3 linked regions of the Homo sapiens genome follow. The protein of the gene in region 1 interacts with the protein of each later gene in a pairwise test. Each region holds a gene or a part of one and is shown in the gene's direction. Other genes may lie near its edges.

The links. Proteins that work in one complex are often made in the same cells at the same time.
Region 2: the proteins of VEZF1 (region 1) and KCTD7 interact in binary tests that used the Homo sapiens proteins (3 or more experiments, as listed by UniProt).
Region 3: the proteins of VEZF1 (region 1) and ARHGEF9 interact in binary tests that used the Homo sapiens proteins (3 or more experiments, as listed by UniProt).

Annotation. Positions count from the first base shown.
Region 1 is NC_000017.11:57,978,234-57,985,270, reverse strand, and holds part of VEZF1 (vascular endothelial zinc finger 1), read left to right. Parts: exon of another isoform or gene 1-11; coding exon of another isoform or gene 12-17; intron 18-1,877; coding exon 1,878-2,572; intron 2,573-3,334; coding exon 3,335-3,398; intron 3,399-4,466; coding exon of another isoform or gene 4,467-4,484; coding exon 4,485-4,668; intron 4,669-5,957; coding exon 5,958-6,119; intron 6,120-7,037. UniProt on the Homo sapiens protein: Possible transcription factor. Specifically binds to the CT/GC-rich region of the interleukin-3 promoter and mediates tax transactivation of IL-3.
Region 2 is NC_000007.14:66,638,881-66,643,584, forward strand, and holds the end of KCTD7 (BTB/POZ domain-containing protein KCTD7), read left to right. Parts: coding exon 1-352; 3' UTR 353-1,513; coding exon of another isoform or gene 1,514-1,514; 3' UTR 1,515-4,167; downstream 4,168-4,704. UniProt on the Homo sapiens protein: May be involved in the control of excitability of cortical neurons.
Region 3 is NC_000023.11:63,649,178-63,656,214, reverse strand, and holds part of ARHGEF9 (rho guanine nucleotide exchange factor 9), read left to right. Parts: intron 1-477; coding exon 478-721; intron 722-7,037. UniProt on the Homo sapiens protein: Acts as a guanine nucleotide exchange factor (GEF) for CDC42. Promotes formation of GPHN clusters.

The DNA of each region.
Region 1 (7,037 bases):
GAATTGGTAAAATGGCAGTAAGTGCTTTTAGTACTCCATCGTACTAATGGTTGTTTAGAGTTGAAAAATGCCTCTAAATGCTATAAGTCTGAACTTTGTCCAGAAGATCTGCATTCCCTATTATCTGATCTGTTAGCCTTTGAAATTGTATATCTTCAGCTATCTTCAGCTATTAACTATTTGTATACTGTATGGAAACGAGTATCCTACAGCCAGGTTGGAAAAGGGGTTACAACTGGAGTCCAAATTCTGTAAAGTTTCTGCTGATGTCACCTGGGTAGATAGACCCTTACATTTACAGGAGCTTCACAAATTAGATTAAAAGCGGACTGTAATTTGCTAGGAGCAGTTAAGTCCAGAAAGAGACTCATAAGTAACCACATAATTTCTGAGAATGCTTCCAGGACTCAAAGGGTGATTACATCAAAATTATTAAATTGAAACTGAGAACTCTGGATACCACACCTCCTAATCGTTTGGGGGAGACTAGTTCCAGGCTTAACTGTTATGCTGCCATCAAGTAAACATAGAAGCAATGTGTGGTAGATGTTCTTACCCATCAGAGGAGGAGCTGTGAGTGTGTGTGTGTTTCTCTTTGTTTTTTTGTCCTTAAGTTAGCTGTGGGACTTGTGGTTATAGAGTAAGAAGGGTAAGTAACCGTCTAAAGTGTCTAAAATGATGGGATGGGCCCCTAGTAGGACATTGTATGCTTAAAATATTTGAAACTCCTCTTGAGTGCATGCATCTTATTAGGATTACAAAACTCAAGCATAGGGGCTTGGGCTCACTGTCAAGAGTTTCAAAAATAATGTTGGTAAAGAACAACGTATTAGGAAGAACTATTTCAGGAATTTTTTCCATCATTTCCTAAATGTTTATCAGTATGGAGAATTTTGAAAGTATCAGAACCAAGAGAGTAACTACTCATAAATGTCAAGAACCTGATCCATGGTGAAATTTTGGTTTCATTGCGGCTAAAAGAATTTCCAGTGTGCAGCCTCCAGTTTTGGGAGTGGAGAAGCACATCATAAGAGCAAATGTCTAATACTTTATTGAAACCTACAACTGCTGGAAGAAGATGAATATGAAAGGAATTTAAGTGTTTATAGTTTGTTTTTCTCATTAGTCTGTCTTTGAGAGTTTGGGATTTGAACAGATAGTGTTGCTGAAAGATGCAGACTTCAGTATACAATTAAATGACCTGAGAAACAACTGACAGGTGTTTGCTATGGGCTGCCTTCACAGATGCCTTCCAGGTTGCTTCATAGCAGATTTTGTTTCAACCAAACCTTTTAGTAGAGTCAAGTGAAAACTTAACGTTAACGACTAGCAAATGTATTTAGAGAACTAGATTTCTTTCATCACTTAGCAACAGCCCCTTCCTCAATCTGAGTTTTCTGATAGAAAGACATGATGCTTTTCTTCTGGATAATAGACAAATAGATGATTGTGTTATTGCATGTATGTGAGTGTGTATGTGTGTATTGCTGCAGTAAGGTACTATTAAATACTTAAATCTGGAGTGGTTTTTTTAAGTAAGTTATTTAAACTTGGTTTCAGCGCTGACAGACTAATGCAAACTGATTTCATCAGCTGGTCTGTCCCTTATGAACCAGGATAGTGTGTAGTTTAGTCAGCTGTTTAAAAGCAAGATCACTGTCAGCAACTTAGTTGCAAAAGTTTTGTGTCTGCACAGTGATTTTTCAATGCTTTGTATTGTGAGCTCTTAGAGTAACTAGGTGGTTGCTGGATTACCACTGCAGAGTAGCTTATAGGTTCTTTGACTGTTTCTTCTGGTCTCTATTGTCTGGAGCATGTTGAATTTCGAAGGCCATTGTGAGAGGCTGAGTTTCTGAAGTGTAAATGTTTGGTTTTAGGCCCATGAAGCTTCCCATCACCAACAGCAGGCAGCACAGAACAGCTTGCTGCCCCTCCTGAGCTCTGCCGTGGAGCCCCCTGATCAGAAACCATTGCTTCCAATACCAATAACTCAGAAACCTCAGGGTGCACCAGAAACATTAAAGGATGCCATTGGGATTAAAAAAGAAAAACCCAAAACTTCATTTGTGTGCACTTACTGCAGTAAAGCTTTCAGGGACAGCTATCACCTGAGGCGCCACGAATCCTGCCACACAGGGATCAAGTTGGTGTCCCGGCCAAAGAAAACCCCCACCACGGTGGTTCCCCTTATCTCTACCATCGCTGGGGACAGCAGCCGAACTTCGTTGGTCTCGACCATTGCAGGCATCTTGTCAACAGTCACTACATCTTCCTCGGGCACCAACCCCAGTAGCAGTGCCAGCACCACAGCTATGCCAGTGACCCAGTCTGTCAAGAAACCCAGTAAGCCTGTCAAGAAGAACCATGCTTGTGAGATGTGTGGGAAGGCCTTCCGAGATGTGTACCATCTCAATCGACACAAGCTCTCCCATTCAGATGAGAAACCCTTTGAGTGTCCTATTTGTAATCAGCGCTTCAAGAGGAAGGACCGGATGACTTACCATGTGAGGTCTCATGAAGGAGGCATCACCAAACCCTATACTTGCAGTGTTTGTGGGAAAGGCTTCTCAAGGTACTGCATTTTGCTTTGCTTTGCTTTGCTTCATTATGGTATCAGTGTACTTCAGTTTTGTCTCCATGTGATCTAGAATGTTTATGTGAGAACAGATGTGGGCAGACCTGTGTTATTAGAGGAGATTGGTGATAGATAAGTATTAACACCTCCAGGTCTAACCTCAGTTTGGTGTGATTGACAAGTGGTGACATAGTGATTAACCTGTTTTTTTCACTTAACAAGTGCCTCGGTGGACTCAGGCTTTCATTTGGCACATGGATACTTATCACTGCAAAACCACCAGTTTTCAGTTCAGTTGGGGGACTAGACATGAGGCTCACTGGGCAAATTAAAGTAACATTTCTTGGAAGTTGGGATGACCTTGGATACTCTTAATTAAACTTTTAGAATGTTTTTTCATTTTTCTGAGAGCACCAACATTTCACTAATTTTCATTTATAAAAGCTTTTAGAGTTAATATAGTGGTAGCTGTTTCTGGCAAGTGTTAAGACTAAAACTTCGGGTATTTTGTAATTGTAAAGAATCAAGACCTAATATGATTTGATGTTGACTAGGAGAGAAAATTAACAGGTAGAGGCCTAAGACTTTGTTCATGGTAAGAGAGGGAAGGAGACTTGCACCGGGGGAGGGAGGTTGGTAATTCTGCTAGCTTTCCCTAAAATGCACCCCTTCCCAATCTGCCAAGCATGTGAGCATCACATAAGTAGCATTTCTCTATGTGTTCGATTATATCTTCTGTTGAAACTCTCTTTTTCACAGGCCTGACCACTTAAGCTGTCATGTAAAACATGTCCATTCAACAGAAAGACCCTTCAAATGCCAAGTAAGAGTTAAAATGACTTATCCTTAGTGTAGCACTTAATGCACATTATCCAGAAGGTCTGAGCCAGTTGAATCTCACCATTCTTGAATAGTCTTAAAATCACTGACCTGAGTAAATGTGGCCCATTTGACTTCTAGTTTTATAAAATATAACTGACAGCTTCTGTTTCTGTAAAGCAAGATCATTTAAAAATTTAAGCGTGTTGTTTTTTTTAAGCTATATTTCCCTTTCTTTGGGCAATAGTATTTTTTGTTAGGAAAAAAAAGTTACAGTCTTGCAAAGGTGGTTGTGTATTTGAAATGAATAAAAGAATAAAGGGCTTTAATTTCTGGGTTGATTATTGAAGTTGTTTTAACTGTAATAGGAGAAAATAATGAATTTTTCTCCCAAATGTTACCACTTACTAGATTTTTGTTTGTTATTACCAAATTGGAACACTTTCTAGTTGTTTAAAAATCTATTCCAGTTAATGATTTTATTTGACATCAATTATAATAACGAAAACATTAAGAATTTTGCTAAATCAAATGACTGTTTTAGGCATTGGTAATTTTAGTTTGTTGCTGGAAGTCTTTTAGTACACCTTTCAGTTAAGTTTGTTAATGACTGATTTTATTAAGTAAATGATTTGAATGCTAAGAAAGATCTAATTGGAGGAAGGAAGCTAGTGTCATTGAGTGAGTGCCTGCTGTGTATACCAGGCTTTTCTTAATCCACCAGTAATTTTGTGAGAGATGTTATCCCCATTTTACAGATGAAGAAGCTTTCAGATAGGTTAACCAACTTGTTCAACATTACACCATTTAGTAAATTGTGGAGCTCAACTTAAACCCAGGTTTAACTTACCCTAAAGCTTACATTTTTTGTGCTACTCTGTGTTGATGTATTTTCTTCCTTCAAAATGGAAGAGTCTAAAATTTATCAAGAGTTTTATTATGATTATGATTCTAGGTAACATATGCAATTAAAATTCAACTAGTTGTCAGCTTGCTGATGTGGATAGGGTAATGCACAGAATATAACGTACTTCAAAATGAGTAGAACAGGATAGTCTATATTTAAAAAAAGTTTTCCTCCCTCATGCAGACGTGCACTGCTGCCTTTGCCACCAAAGACAGACTGCGGACACACATGGTGCGCCATGAAGGCAAGGTATCATGTAACATCTGTGGGAAGCTCCTGAGTGCAGCATACATCACCAGCCACTTAAAGACTCATGGGCAGAGCCAAAGTATCAACTGTAATACATGTAAACAAGGCATCAGTAAAAGTAGGTGGTGCTTCAGATTTTCTTTCTTTTATATTTCAGATGGGTGAAATATGCATGTTTTCATATTGTATCAAAGGTATTAATATTCACCTTACGTGTTTCCTCCTATTGCCAACATGTGCAAACAGGCAACAATGGACAGAGTATATTAATGTCAGAACTATGCTTTACTTTCATGTATGCAAACAGCATTGATAAGCTAATAATAACCTTTAAGGTGAAAGCAGTATTAATAAGCTTGCTTTTCAAACCCAAATCTGTAGAGAAATGAGATATCATATCCACTTGAAGGTTTAAATGCTTTGCTTGCCTTAAATTCAGAGTTGAAGATAGAATACTTGCATTTACCCAGGCTTTTTCTTTTAAGATTGCCCTAACCACTAGAAGAAGGCATTTTCCTAATCCTTTATTCTATTATATATGTACTTTATGCAGTAGAAACATCAAATTCTCAAAAAAATAGGTGGCCACAAGAGAATGGGGAAGAAAGCTTAATGTGTGTTAATCTATCCATTTTTACTTCTTTGTAAGTACACTGGGTTTGTAAGTACACTTCTTTGTAAGTACACTGGTATGTTGTACTTTATAAGCATTCACTTCTGTTTTTTTTGTTTTTTTTTTTTTTTTTTTTTGAGACGGAGTCTTCACACTGTTGCCCAGGCTGAAGTGCAATGGCACGATCTCGGCTCACTGCAACCTCCGCCTCCTGGGTTCAAGCGATTCTCCTGCCTCAGCCTCCCAAGTAACTGGGATTACAGGTGCACACTGCCATGCCCGATTACCTTTGCTACTTTTTTTGTATTTTCATAGAGACGGCGTTTCACCGTGTTGCCCAGGCTGGTCTCGAACTCCTGAGCCCAGACAGTCCACCTGCCTCGGCCTCCCAAAGTGCTAGGATTACAGGCATGAGCCACTGCACCCGGCCTATAAACATTCACTTTTAGTGTACATTATTGTGATCAAATAAAAAATTTTGTTGAATGTTGATTAGTCCTATATTAATAATATCAAACTTCCATTTTTAAAGACACTTGCTTTTTTTTTTTTTGATGGTTTTTTTTTTATAGCAAAGAGTCCTTTTCTCTTTTATATTGATTTTTGCTAGTTCTCTAGACTTTTTAGTGCTTGTTTATTTTGACCAATATAGACACAGCAGCAAAAAAGATGCACTTACTAAGAGCTATCAGGTTAAATGGTTAAGATCACAGAAGCATGAGAAGTCAATTTTGAAAAAAAACGGCAACAGTTTTACAGGTAGATACAGTGTTTTTGGTTTGTCTTTGTAATAGCATGCATGAGTGAAGAGACCAGTAACCAAAAGCAGCAGCAGCAGCAGCAGCAGCAGCAGCAGCAGCAGCAACAACAACAACAACAACATGTGACAAGCTGGCCAGGGAAGCAAGTAGAAACACTGAGACTGTGGGAAGAAGCTGTTAAAGCAAGGAAGAAAGGTAAGGCACAGCTTCCAGTGTTGAAAATATGGCTAGAGAAGTGTTTTCATTTAGTATGCCAAGTGATCAAAGTAGAGAAGCCACAGTTTTAGGAAATCTAGCTTAATGGAAACATGGAAATAGTGCATGCTGGGAAATATCTGGTAAAGTATAGTTATTGGCAATAAAGTGTCCAGATAAGTTATTACTAGGAATTAAAAGTTCTCAGTACTTCCTATCATGTTCTTTCTTTTGATGTACTTTTTGCTACAAACCTGGATCCAAATTTGGTCCTTTGCTATGCTCAGAGTTGCATTTTTATATTCAATTTGATGTCAACCTCCATGCATTATGGGCTTTTTTTTTCCTTTCTAAAATATTCCCACTTTTAGAGGTGGATATCCTTGTGTGTACATAAGTTCATTTTCTTACAACTGTGCTATTTTTGCTCTGTAGTGTTCTTTTTCATTGTATTATTTATTACATGTTTCAGATTCTGTAGTGTTGATGTCTTTTCTCTTGGTCACACCCTTAATCTCCTTCAGTCTATCACTGGCTGGCCTTAACATATCTAGTCTTCTGCTGCTGAGGACTTTACTGTAATTGTTTAAAAAATTTTAAATGGTTTGCTTTTCTCTCGTGTATATTTTCTAACGAATCAGTTGGAGTATCAGTTTTCAACGTACTTTTCAACTTACTAGTACAGCTTTGGCTTCTGGACTATTGTGCAGCCATTTCAAATGAATCATTTTGTCAATGTATCATGAGCCAAAGGACAGATTTGTAAATTCCTTCTTCCTCCTCCACCTCTACAATGTCTTACTATGTTAAATGTTAAGGAATCCTCTATCTGTGGGCTCCTCTGTATGTAATTCCTTTTCTGTGTAGTTTCTTCCATCTTTTGCTTTCATGTAGTGTGGCTCTTCCCTTCCTCAGAGT
Region 2 (4,704 bases), on another chromosome or scaffold:
CGCCCGGCTGCGTGCGGTCCAGCGGAAGGCCCGCTTTGCCAAGCTCAAGGTCTGTGTCTTCAAGGAGGAGATGCCCATCACCCCCTATGAGTGTCCGCTCCTCAACTCCCTGCGATTTGAGCGGAGTGAGAGTGACGGGCAGCTTTTTGAGCACCACTGTGAAGTGGATGTGTCTTTTGGGCCCTGGGAGGCTGTGGCTGATGTTTATGACCTGCTGCACTGCCTGGTCACGGACCTCTCGGCCCAGGGTCTCACCGTGGACCACCAGTGCATCGGGGTGTGTGACAAGCACCTCGTGAACCACTACTACTGCAAGCGCCCCATCTATGAGTTCAAGATCACATGGTGGTGAGTAGCCCCGGTAGGCGAGAGTCCCATCAGGGAGGATGTCCACCTTGCTTGGTGGCTCTGGGAGTAAGATCCCTGAAGGGGCTGCTGACTGCCCCAGAATCTGCCGAGGTGAGAACAGCATCCTGAGGCACAGCTCCCAGGGGACAGAGGTGTAGCTCCAATCTCCCTGACTGCACCTCAGGGTTGGGCTCAGGGCTTGCGGCCTGCAGGCACTCCAGCCAGCGCTCACCTGGCCTTTCCTCAAGGCATGGTAGTCTTTCCTTGAGGCTGATAGCTAGGGCTTGACCAGGAAGTCCCGAGAAGTTTTGTCACCTTCTTGACCTTGCAAGAGAGTTTCTGCCCATTTTAGAGCCACGTTACCAAATCGATGTAGGCCTAATCACTTCCTCAACCCTGTTCAAGCGTCCCTCCCTTGTGCTCAGTATATTGGTGTGAACACGGAACATGATGGGGGATTTACCTGACCAGCCACCCCATAGCCCCTGGCTGAAGAAGAAAGAGCATCTTCTCTCCCACTGCACCCCTTCTCCTCCAAGAATAGTTGCCCACATTCCCAAAATGTGGAAAGACTTTTCTTTTCCTTCCGGAACATGTTCTTCACCACCTTTTGGAGATTTAACCATAGCTGCCAAAGCTATGCACCCAGTTGGCCTTAGAAAACCACAATGTTTACAGCCCTGTCTTAGGGCCGCGGCTTCTCTTATCTTCCACCACCTTCCTTGCTTGCAGGGTTATCTTCTCACAGGGCTGGAATGCAAATTTCAGAGGCTTCTTTTGAAGATTCCCCAAGTCAAGCAGGCAAGATGCCTAGATCTTCTGTTATCTTTGACATGTAACATCCTTTTTAGAGGCTCAGAACACCTCCTTGGCTGCTATCTCATGTGTTAGAATCCAGTTTGTGGTGAACCTCTTTGGAAGGGGACCCCCTCTCTTTAAACCCTGTTCCTCTGTCCTGGTAACATTCTCCTTCTAGGAGAGCCTCTCTTCTGAGAAGGTAAAGGAAGGGCTGGGTGAGACACACAGCTATCCTAGGAGCCGTAGGAAGACAAAACTTCCCTTTTGTTTTACTCCTCACTCCTCTATTTTTGTTTTACTCACTTCTTTATATTTTGTTTTACTCCTCACTCCTGTATATTTTGGTTTACTTACTCCTCTATTTCAGAAATTGAAAAAGATCCCCAAGGATCTGTTACTACTGCATTTCCTTCTTGCTCTGTCTACAGCCTAGGCCAACTAGTCAGGGTCTGGACATGCATCTCCTAAAGGAAGAACTGTGTAGCACCATTGATCACAATGTAACATTTCCATGCTGCATTAAGGGTGTCTCTCTCTAATCATGATTGTACCTGTCTCTTCCTGGGTAAAGGGAGATTTTTTTTTTTAATGTGTAAAGAATTGATGCGAGCCAGGAACATGTCTGTAGTCCCAGCTACTTGGGCACACGCCTGTAGTCCAGGCCACTCGAGCACACACCTGTAGTACCAGCTACTCTGGAGGCTGAGGCAGGAGGATCACTTGAGCCCAGGAGATTAAGACTGTAGTATACTATGATCGTGCCTGTGGCTAGCCACTGTGCTCCAGCCTGGGCAACACCATCGTAAAAATAAATAAATAAATAAATAAATTGGGGAGGACAGCCTCACTGGTATCAGACTTACAGGACCAGATAGACAAGATGGGTATAAGGGGAGCTGAAGTCTGTGTTCATATGAGGAAGAGAAGACCAAGCCCTGGGACTTTGGCTGAATTCCTCCGTGGGGCTGGACGGCAGTGATCTCCTGTTCCCTATGTGTAAACAAAGATTCCAGGGCGTGGTTTTGCACTCCTGTTGTACTCTTTTAGAGGTGGAAAAGAGGTGGATACTGAGATCTAAGAGGAAAGGATAGTCATTCACGTTCTGAGATATGCGCTCTCTCTATTGTTCTCGTACACAAAGGGATAGTCTCTTTTCTGGAGCTGATGTCCCTGCTTGGAGGTTAGCCCCAAAACATGGCTCTTGTATTGTTCTAAGAGAAAAGGCTTTCATTTTGGTTCTTCTGATTGGTGTTACCTACTGCCTAATATGTGTTCATTTTTTGACAGAGAGGCAGACTATTGAAAAAGTCTGTGTGAACAGAGAGCAGTTCATTAAGCCCATTGCTTTCAGTAATGTGGCCTTGACCCCTTCTGCTTCCCCCTTCTCCCATGGAGCATGGCAGGGCTTGGTTATTTAGAGTCCATACATGCAAGCCATTGAGAGACTTGTTTGCTCAAATGCAAGTTTGCTCAAAAACAGGTCCTGAAGGCTTGCTTAGGATTACAGGGATGCTGGGTAAGAACACCGTTCCTCTCTCTCGCTGGAGAAATCCCTGTTTCTCTGACTCCCTTTGTGATCCTCACAGTAATGTATTCTGTGCCACTGTAGGACACAAGGCTCTGGGCCAGTAGAACAGGCAGAGAGGTGACACTGGGCAGCAAGCTGAGAGCTCTTTCTAAATGGAGTGAAGGAATTCAGTGGCCTAGTTTCGCCATTCTCTAATGAGAAACCAAGGCCAGGCTGAAAAGTGCAATTAGATGTGGTGGATTGTGGTAACGGCCTCCAGATAAAGGGGTTATCCCTGTGGAAGTGACTTTTCCCCATTTGATCCCTTTTCAACTCTAAATGGCCAGGCCCAGAACAGAAGAAGGGTTGGGTCTGGAAGGAAGGCTCCAAAGGATGAAAGCTTCTCCCTGATCATAAGGAAGTGCATCTTTATAGAATTGTTGTGCATAATGTCAGTAAATCCCTCTCACTTGACAAGGGACTGGATTCATCTTGCCTTGAGACGGGCCAGTAGTTATCAGTGAGTCAAAGCAAAGTGAAAGTTTCAGGAGATGGGACCAATGGTGCAATGCTCGCCATAACAAAATTCCTTAAAAATAAAAAAGCTAATGTTATAGCAACAAAAAAAGACTGAAGCAAAACCACACTGAAATGCATCCCACTCCAGGAGAGGAATTCTTAGCGTAACACTCTAAATAAATGGAAGGAATCATCACCTTCCTTATTTTACCTCTGCCTTGTTCACCAGGCTGCCCAGTGCTTACCATGCAGAAAGCAGTCAGCTGTACTCTGGAAGTTTCTGTTCTTCTTTCCTGGGGCTTAGGATATTCTGGGAGCTGTCTGAGCCTTGTGCCTAAGGCTTATCAGGTGATATAATCTTCCTGTTCTGGGCTGCTTGCTGGAGGAATAGGAAGTGACATTTATAAGACACAGGCGGTGTGAGCATCCATGTGTGGTCTTGGTCTAAACCAGCTCTTGAACAGGTTAAAGCAAACAGCAATAACAAAACAAAAACTACTGATGCTGAGCGTTTTGATCCTAGTAATATTTCAAATATTGTCCTTCTGCATATGTTCTATCCATATTTGATTCCAATATACATTATTAAGCTTTCTTGGGTACTATTTTGCTGGGGCTCTTGCGTGAAGGTGGTACCTGTCTCATGATCCTTAAAAGAGAGAGGCTTTTTTCATCCAAAGCTGTAGTGTTGGGAACTGGGGTGGGAGAGGCACTTTTTGGAATTCTGAAAGAATCATATCTGTGTATATACATACTGAGTGGGGAAGGATGGGGGTTGGCAGGGGTTGAGGGAGGTGGGAACAAACAGTGAGTATGGGAACAGGCAGTCACCTCGAGTGTGGGAGGTCACCTGGGTCCGTCGTCTTCCTTCTGTATGGTGTTGGGTTTATGTACACACTATAACACTTCCTGTGTGAGTTCATGTACCTGTCTGTGAGTGCTTTGGTGTATTGAGCCTCAGTACACTCCAAGGGCATTAAAGTCAAGAACTAGAACCTGGGTGCTGTGCCTTTCTTTTTTAGAGATGTGCTCTCATCTCTTCTCTGACCCCCACTTTGCCAGCAAATATTTTTTATTTCTGCTTAAAATGTGGTGTGTTTGGGGATGCCCCACACAACAAGACAGGCTTTTCCCTGAGACCAGCAGCTGAATTTCTGCCCTGAAAGGGAGGTGGGCCTCTTGAGGACCCTTCTAGAGTTACTCTAGACTTGTCCCTGTTTCATGTAGGCATGTGCCCACCCCAGCCTAGGCAAAATCTCTGTCCTCTTCTTTTGGGAGTTCTCCAAGGAAAGAAGAGACTGCAGGTGCAGTCACGTGTGTGGCTCACAACCATGTCAGGTAGTTCTAAAATAAATTCCTCCTGTCATATTACCACTTCCTTTTCAATGGGGGAAATAAGTAGCTCTAAATTTATGTAAGCCTCAGTGGTTAAGACCCTTCCTTAAGAAAAATGGACGTAAGTTGCCCTTCCTTTGAAAGCAGAGCTTGACACCTTCCTGGCTAATGAGTGTCCTCATCAAGATGCCCCCTGG
Region 3 (7,037 bases), on another chromosome or scaffold:
TAATCCTTTGCCAGCAGTCTGTGGCCTCCTAGCTACTCTTACTACTCAGTCCCCCTCTGATGTTCAGGTCTCACTGGCCTGCACAGATATTTGAACACACTCCAGGCAACCAGCCAGCTCATTTCATACCTCTAGTGGGCTTGCTGATGTTTTCGAAAAGGAGAAGCCCTTGCTAGCCGTGTTTATGTGGCTTACTGTTTCCTACCTCCCATCAGCAGACTTGCACACACGTCCAAGGATTGATTCTGGTGTCTGAAATGATCTTTCGAGGTGAGACAGAGGCTTTTTCTTTGGGCATCTAGTTAACCAACCTGTCAGTGTCAGACTACTAGTATAACCTGGCCAAATTTAGAACAAACCAACCCCCATTGGTACTTCAAAACGGTGACAGTGTTAGCATTCTGCTGTGCCCCTGTGCCAACTCTTCTAGTACTCGCCGTGCACATACCTTCAAGAAACCTCTTCCTTCCCATCTAGGACCTAATCCGGAGAGACATCCTGTACTACAAAGGCCGCATTGACATGGATAAATATGAGGTAGTTGACATTGAGGATGGCAGAGATGATGACTTCAATGTCAGCATGAAGAATGCCTTTAAGCTTCACAACAAGGAGACTGAGGAGATACATCTGTTCTTTGCCAAGAAGCTGGAGGAAAAAATACGCTGGCTCAGGGCTTTCAGAGAAGAGAGGAAAATGGTACAGGAAGATGAAAAAATTGGTAAGTGACCTGAGAGTAGAAAGAAGAACATGGCTATGAAGAACATAGGAGGTTTGAATTGGTTTCCATTTTCTTGGAGTCAGAGGGAAGATTTCTGTTGCAAACTGACTTAAGCTACTTTGGTGGTTCCTTATTATTAGGTTCTTTTTGGTAAGTACCAATAGCTTCCATTAGTCAGTGGTAGGTTTGAACTATAGGTTGTCCTCCCCTACTAGCTAAGAATATCACACTGAAAGCCAGCCTCAGGCTTGATTCTCCCAAACATACATTTATTAGCAAATAAACAAAAATCAGTTATACAACCTGTTCTGTAATCTTCATAAAGCCTGAGCTCTCTGTCATTAGGTATATAGTTTGTACTCCTGATTAGGATACTTCAGATGTTAACTAAATCCCCCTAGACTGTAGATTCAAATAATATGCACATACACTTCACACTTTCTGTGTGGAAGTATTTAAAGTAAATTATAGAAAATATAACAGGACTTAAAACCATGACCATTTTCATGATTTCAAATCACACTGAAACATACTTTTTTGCCTTACAATAAGTTGTTTCTCTTTTCCAGTGGGGATATAGATAGTAGAGATATTTTTCATGTTGCTTCCCAACTGTGGGATTTAGACGCCATTGGCTATAGCTTTGTGACTTATAAAGTACTGTCTGGTCTCTTGCTCATGGTCCTGCCTTTCTGTCATAAAAAATACCAAGCAACCAGACTTGTTAATTCCCTGAGAAGACATACAGTTTCTGTCTTTGCCCTATTGCTTATGGGAGTGAAATTGTACTTTAGAAGGCCTGAAAGCTCAAGTTTATGGAAATTGTCTCTAGAAAAATGGGCCTACTCATTGAATCCTGGTGCAAAAGGGTTCTCTTATCCTTCCATGTGGGCGATTGAAATTATCCAGAGGTAAGAAAGGATGGTCAGAAAGACAAATCTAACTCCAGTCTTCTCCTCAGAACTTGGGTAGAGTGCAAATTAATAACTCACTTTGAGTCTCATTGGAATCAGACTGCTTTCAGTATGTGGACACTCCATTGGGACATGATGTGGAGTGGCATATAAATGTTGCTGGCTACTTCTCTCAATAGCAAGCAGCAGCAGCCACTGACCTTGCCTAGGCTGTTAGAGTTATTAAAGGAATGGTCTTAGTGTTCAGACCCTGAATCAATTAGAAGGCCCCTGCCATTCCCATTGGCTCTAACACAATGTCTCCCACACAATGCCCTAATAAACCTGTGACTTTATCTGCTTCTAATAGAAAAGCTTCTAGAAATTACTTTCTGAACAGGCATATGTTCATCTTTAAAAATGTTGAGGTTTTTTTTTTTTGGTTTGATAATAACAGTAAATCACTTCCATTGTAGGAAATTTAGGGAAAAAGCAACAGAAAAGTACAAGAAAAAAAAAAAACACATGAACATACTCAGTAATAACTTTCATAAACATTTTGATATATATTTCCAGCCTTTTTTATGTGTCTAATTAGAAAAATCAAGGTGACTGAATCTTTTTTCTTTCTCTCCCCATACCTGCCTCTCTATAGTGGATAGATATAATTTTGTATCCTCATTTTCACTCATCATTATATCATTAGCATTTCTATCAGATCACTTCATATTTTTAATCATTATTTTATGAGGGTCATATAGTTTTATCATAGCTTTTTTAAACTTTTACTTTTTAATTATAAAATTAATGCATGACCATTATAACCATTTAAACAAATATGGAAATATATAAAGAAAACTTAGCATTCCTTCCCCTTCTCTGTCACTTCCATACTGAATGAAATAACCAGTGTTAACAGTGCAGTATGCATCTTTCCATACTTATCTCATGTCCATATAAACATATACAAACATAATACTTTTATATTTACAAAAATTATATTATATATATTACCTTGTAGGTTGCTTTTTTAAACTTAATTTATCATAAGTAACTCCCCAGATAAATAATATAGAATCTAACTATAACCCCTTGTATCAGTTAGGGTTCAACCAAAGAGGCATAACCTGTAGGAGATATATCATACCACTGCTGAAAATTGCATTACAAGGAATTGGCTTATGTGATTGTGAATGTTGACTAAGTGGCTCAGAATTCCATAGAGCAGGCAGTCAGAAATGGAGGATCACAGGCAGGCTCAAACCCATGGACATAGGCCAAAGCTGTCATCTACAGGCAGTCAGGAAGAGAAGCTCATGAGAAGGATGAAGTGGCACAGACATGGGCTAAAGCTGTGGTGCACAGGTAGAATTTCTGCCCTTTCTGTGTGAGACCTAGGCTCTACTTTTAAGGTCTTGCAACAGATTCAGTCAGGTCCATCCAGATTATCTAGGATATTGTCCCTTATATAAAGTCAACTGATTAGGGCCTGTATTAGCCCATGTTCACAGTGCTATAAATACCTGAGACTGGGTAATTTATGAAGAAAAGAGGTTTAATTGACTCACAGTTCTGCAGGCTTAACAGGAAGCATCACTGGGAGGCCTCAGGAAATTTAGAATCATAGTAGAAGGCAAAGGGGAAGCAAGCATCTTCTTCACATAGTGGCAGGAGAGAGAGAGAGCAAGAGGGAAGTGCCACATACTTTTAAACCATCAGATCTCGTGAGAACTCACCCACTATCATGAGAACAGCATGGGAGAAATTCCCCCCATGATCCAATCACCTCCCACTAGGCCCCTCCCCCAACACATGGGGATTACCATTCCACATGAGATTTGGGTGGGGACACAGAGCCAAACCGTATCAGGGGCTTTGATTATATCTGTAAAATACCTTCATGGCAACACCTACATTAGTGAGGACTACAGTCTAGTCGAATGGGCACATCAATAAATTCATCACACTTTTCTTATAAACAGCTGTATAACATTCCATAATATTATGTAATAACCACAGTCATCTCTTGGTATGCACGGGATATTGGTTCCAGGACTCCCGTGCATATCAAAATCCATGGATGCTCAAATCCCTTATATAAAATGATATAGTATTTACATATAACCTATGTACATCCTCCATATACTTTCAATCATTTCTAGATTATTTATAATACCTAACACAATGTAAATGCTATGTAAATAATTGTTATACTGTATTGTTTAGGGAATAAAAACAAGGCAAAAATCCATATGTGTTCAGTAAAGAAGCAACCAGCCGCTTTTTTCTGCATATTTTTGATCCACAGTTGATTGAATCCAGATGTGGAACCCATGGTTACAGAGGGCTGACTGTTCGTTTTTTGCTAGACATTCATTTTATATTTAGCTTTATTTCCCACTACAGATATTGCTGCAATAAATATCCATGTACGTATCTGATTGTTACTTACTGATGCTTTTATTCCTGTAGGATCTGTACCCTAAAGTGGAATGACTGAATGTTAGGATGTGAACAGTTTTAATACATACTTGCATATTAAATTCTGAAAGATTTGTAGAATCTATACTCCTAGCATAATTTTATGAGTACCCACTTCCGCATAGCCTCACCAGCACTGGATAGTATCTATTTGTTTCAGTTTGCCATTTCTCAACTAGTAAATTGAAAAAAAGTGTTGGAACCTTTTTTTTTTCATATGCTTAATGGCTATTTTCATTTCTTTTGTGAATTGCCTCATACCCTTTACTCATTCTTTTAACATAAATTTGGAAGGACTCTATATTGTTGATGTGACACTTTGTCAGTCACGAATTTCACGTTTTCACCAGTCTGTTTTTTGTCTTTTGAGTTTGTTTATATTGCCTACTTCTATAAATATTTAAATTTTTACTTTGAAAAATGTATCTATTATTCCTTTTTTGGCCCCTAGTTTCATCTTGCTTAAGATCTCTTGCCATCCAAACTATAAAATTTCCTGATTAAAAATATATTTTTGGTTTATTTTTAGAACAGTAATCCATCCGGAATTTACATTTTTATATGATGTGAGAAAGGGGACCTCATTTTTTTCTTCAAGGTGGATAGTCAGTTGCATCTGCATCATTTATTAAATAAATCATTTATTTTCCACACAGTTTAAATGCCATTTTTCATATATAGTAACTCTGCATATATACTTAGATGTGTTTTTAAACTTTCTATTCTGTTCCACTCTTCTGTTTGTCATTTCTTGTATCAAGACTATGCTGTTTCAATTACAGTAGATTTTGAGAAAGATTTAATGCCTGGTACAATCAATTCTTATTCACTCTTATCATTGCTTCTTAGCAGTTCTTAGATGTTTATTCTTTGATATGAATATCAAATTTATTTATTCTAGGTTTAAAAACACTGCCGTAAAAACTGGCATAGAAAGCCCATTTGGATTCTGATTGGCATTATATTAAATTTTTTAATATGTAACGGCTTGGCATTGTTATTAAGTTTTCACATTTAAGACAAGGCTCTGCTCTCCTTTCATCAAAATCTTGTTCTGTATGCTTCAGGAAAATGGTAGAGTTTTCTTTAGATTCTGTACATTTCTGCCTCTTTGTACATTACTTTTGATAATTTCTATTTTTCTGGGAAATTGTTCATTTCCTCTGGATTTTTAATTTAATGCTATATATCTACACATAATATTTTCTAATTATCATATCTTCCATAATTGTAGTTATCTCTCTTCTTTTGGGTTCATAATATTTCATATATTTTTATTTTCTCACTTTAATCTTTTAATCAGGCTTATCAGGGAGTATTGATCTTTTTTATGTATATATAATCATTATACATATTTTTAAGGTACATGTGATATTTTGATACCTGTATACAATGTGTAATGATCAAATCAGGGTAATTGCGATATTCATCACCTCAAATGCTCATCTTTTCTTTGTGTTGGGAACATTCCAAATATTTTTTTTAGCTATTTTGAGATATACAATAAATTATTATTAACTCTAATTTCCCTACTGTCCTATCACAAACTAAATCTTATTCCTTCTAACTGTGTTTTTGTACCTATTAACCAGCCCCTCTCCATTGACCTGAGCCTTTCTTTCTGAGCCACTGATAATCACCATTCTACTCTCTATCTTTATGAAATCCACCTTTCAGCTCCCATGTATGAGGGAAAATAATCTTATTTCACTTAACATAATATCCTCCAGTTCCATCCATGTTTCTGCAGATGACAGGATTTCATTTTTTTATGGCTGAATAATATAACATCGTGTATATATGCCACATTTCCTTTATACATTAATCCACTGATGGGCATTTAGGTTGATTTCATATTTTGGTTATTGTGAATAATGCTGTGATAAACATGAGAGCATAGATATTTCCTCGGTATATTGATATCCTTTCTTTTGGATACATACCCAGCAGTGGCATTGCTGGATTATATAGTAGTTCTATTTTTAATTTTTTTAGGAACTTTTCTACTGTTTTTCTATAATGGCTGTACTAATTTACATTTGGTCGTTTCAAAGAACGTGTTTTTGGTTTGTTTATCCCTTCTGCAGTTTATTTCTGTTTCTTCTTAATTTTCACTTTTATTTCCTTCTTTTTCCTACTTTCAGGATTTAAGGAATATTTTAGATCCTTTCCACTCTTTCATTGACTGAATACTTACTTTGTTTATTTTGATTTTTACAAAATCAGAAAATCATTTTAGACATGGGAGGGTGTATGTGTCGAGGAATTTGTCCATTTCTTCTAGATTTTCTAGTTTATTTGCGTAGAGGTGTTTATAGTATTCTCTGATGGTAGTTTGTATTTCTGTGGGATCAGTGGTGATATCCCCTTTATCATTTTTTATTGTGTCTATTTGATTCTTCTCTCTTTTCTTCTTTATTAGTCTTGCTAGTGGTCTATCAATTTTGTTGTTCTTTTCAAAAAACCAGCTCCTGGATTCATTGATTTTTTGAAGGGTTTTTTGTGTCTCTATTTCCTTCAGTTCTGCTCTGATCTTAGTTATTTCTTGCATTCTGCTACCTTTTGAATGTATTTGCTCTTGCTTCTCTAGTTCTTTTAATTGTGATGTTAGGGTGTCAATTTAAGATCTTTCCTGCTTTCTCTTGTGGGCATTTAGTGCTATAAATTTCCCTCTACACACTGCTTTGAATGTGTCCCAGAGATTCTGGTATGTTGTGTCTTTGTTCTCATTGGTTTCAAAGAACATCTTTATTTCTGCCTTCATTTCGTTATGTACCCAGTAGTCATTCAGGAGCAGGTTGTTCAGTTTCCATGTAGTTGAGCGGTTTTGAGTGAGTTTCTTAATCCTGAGTTCTAGTTTGATTTCACTGTGGTCTGAGAGACAGTTTGTTATAATTTCTGTTCTTTTACATTTGCTGAGGAGTGCTTTACTATGTGGTCAA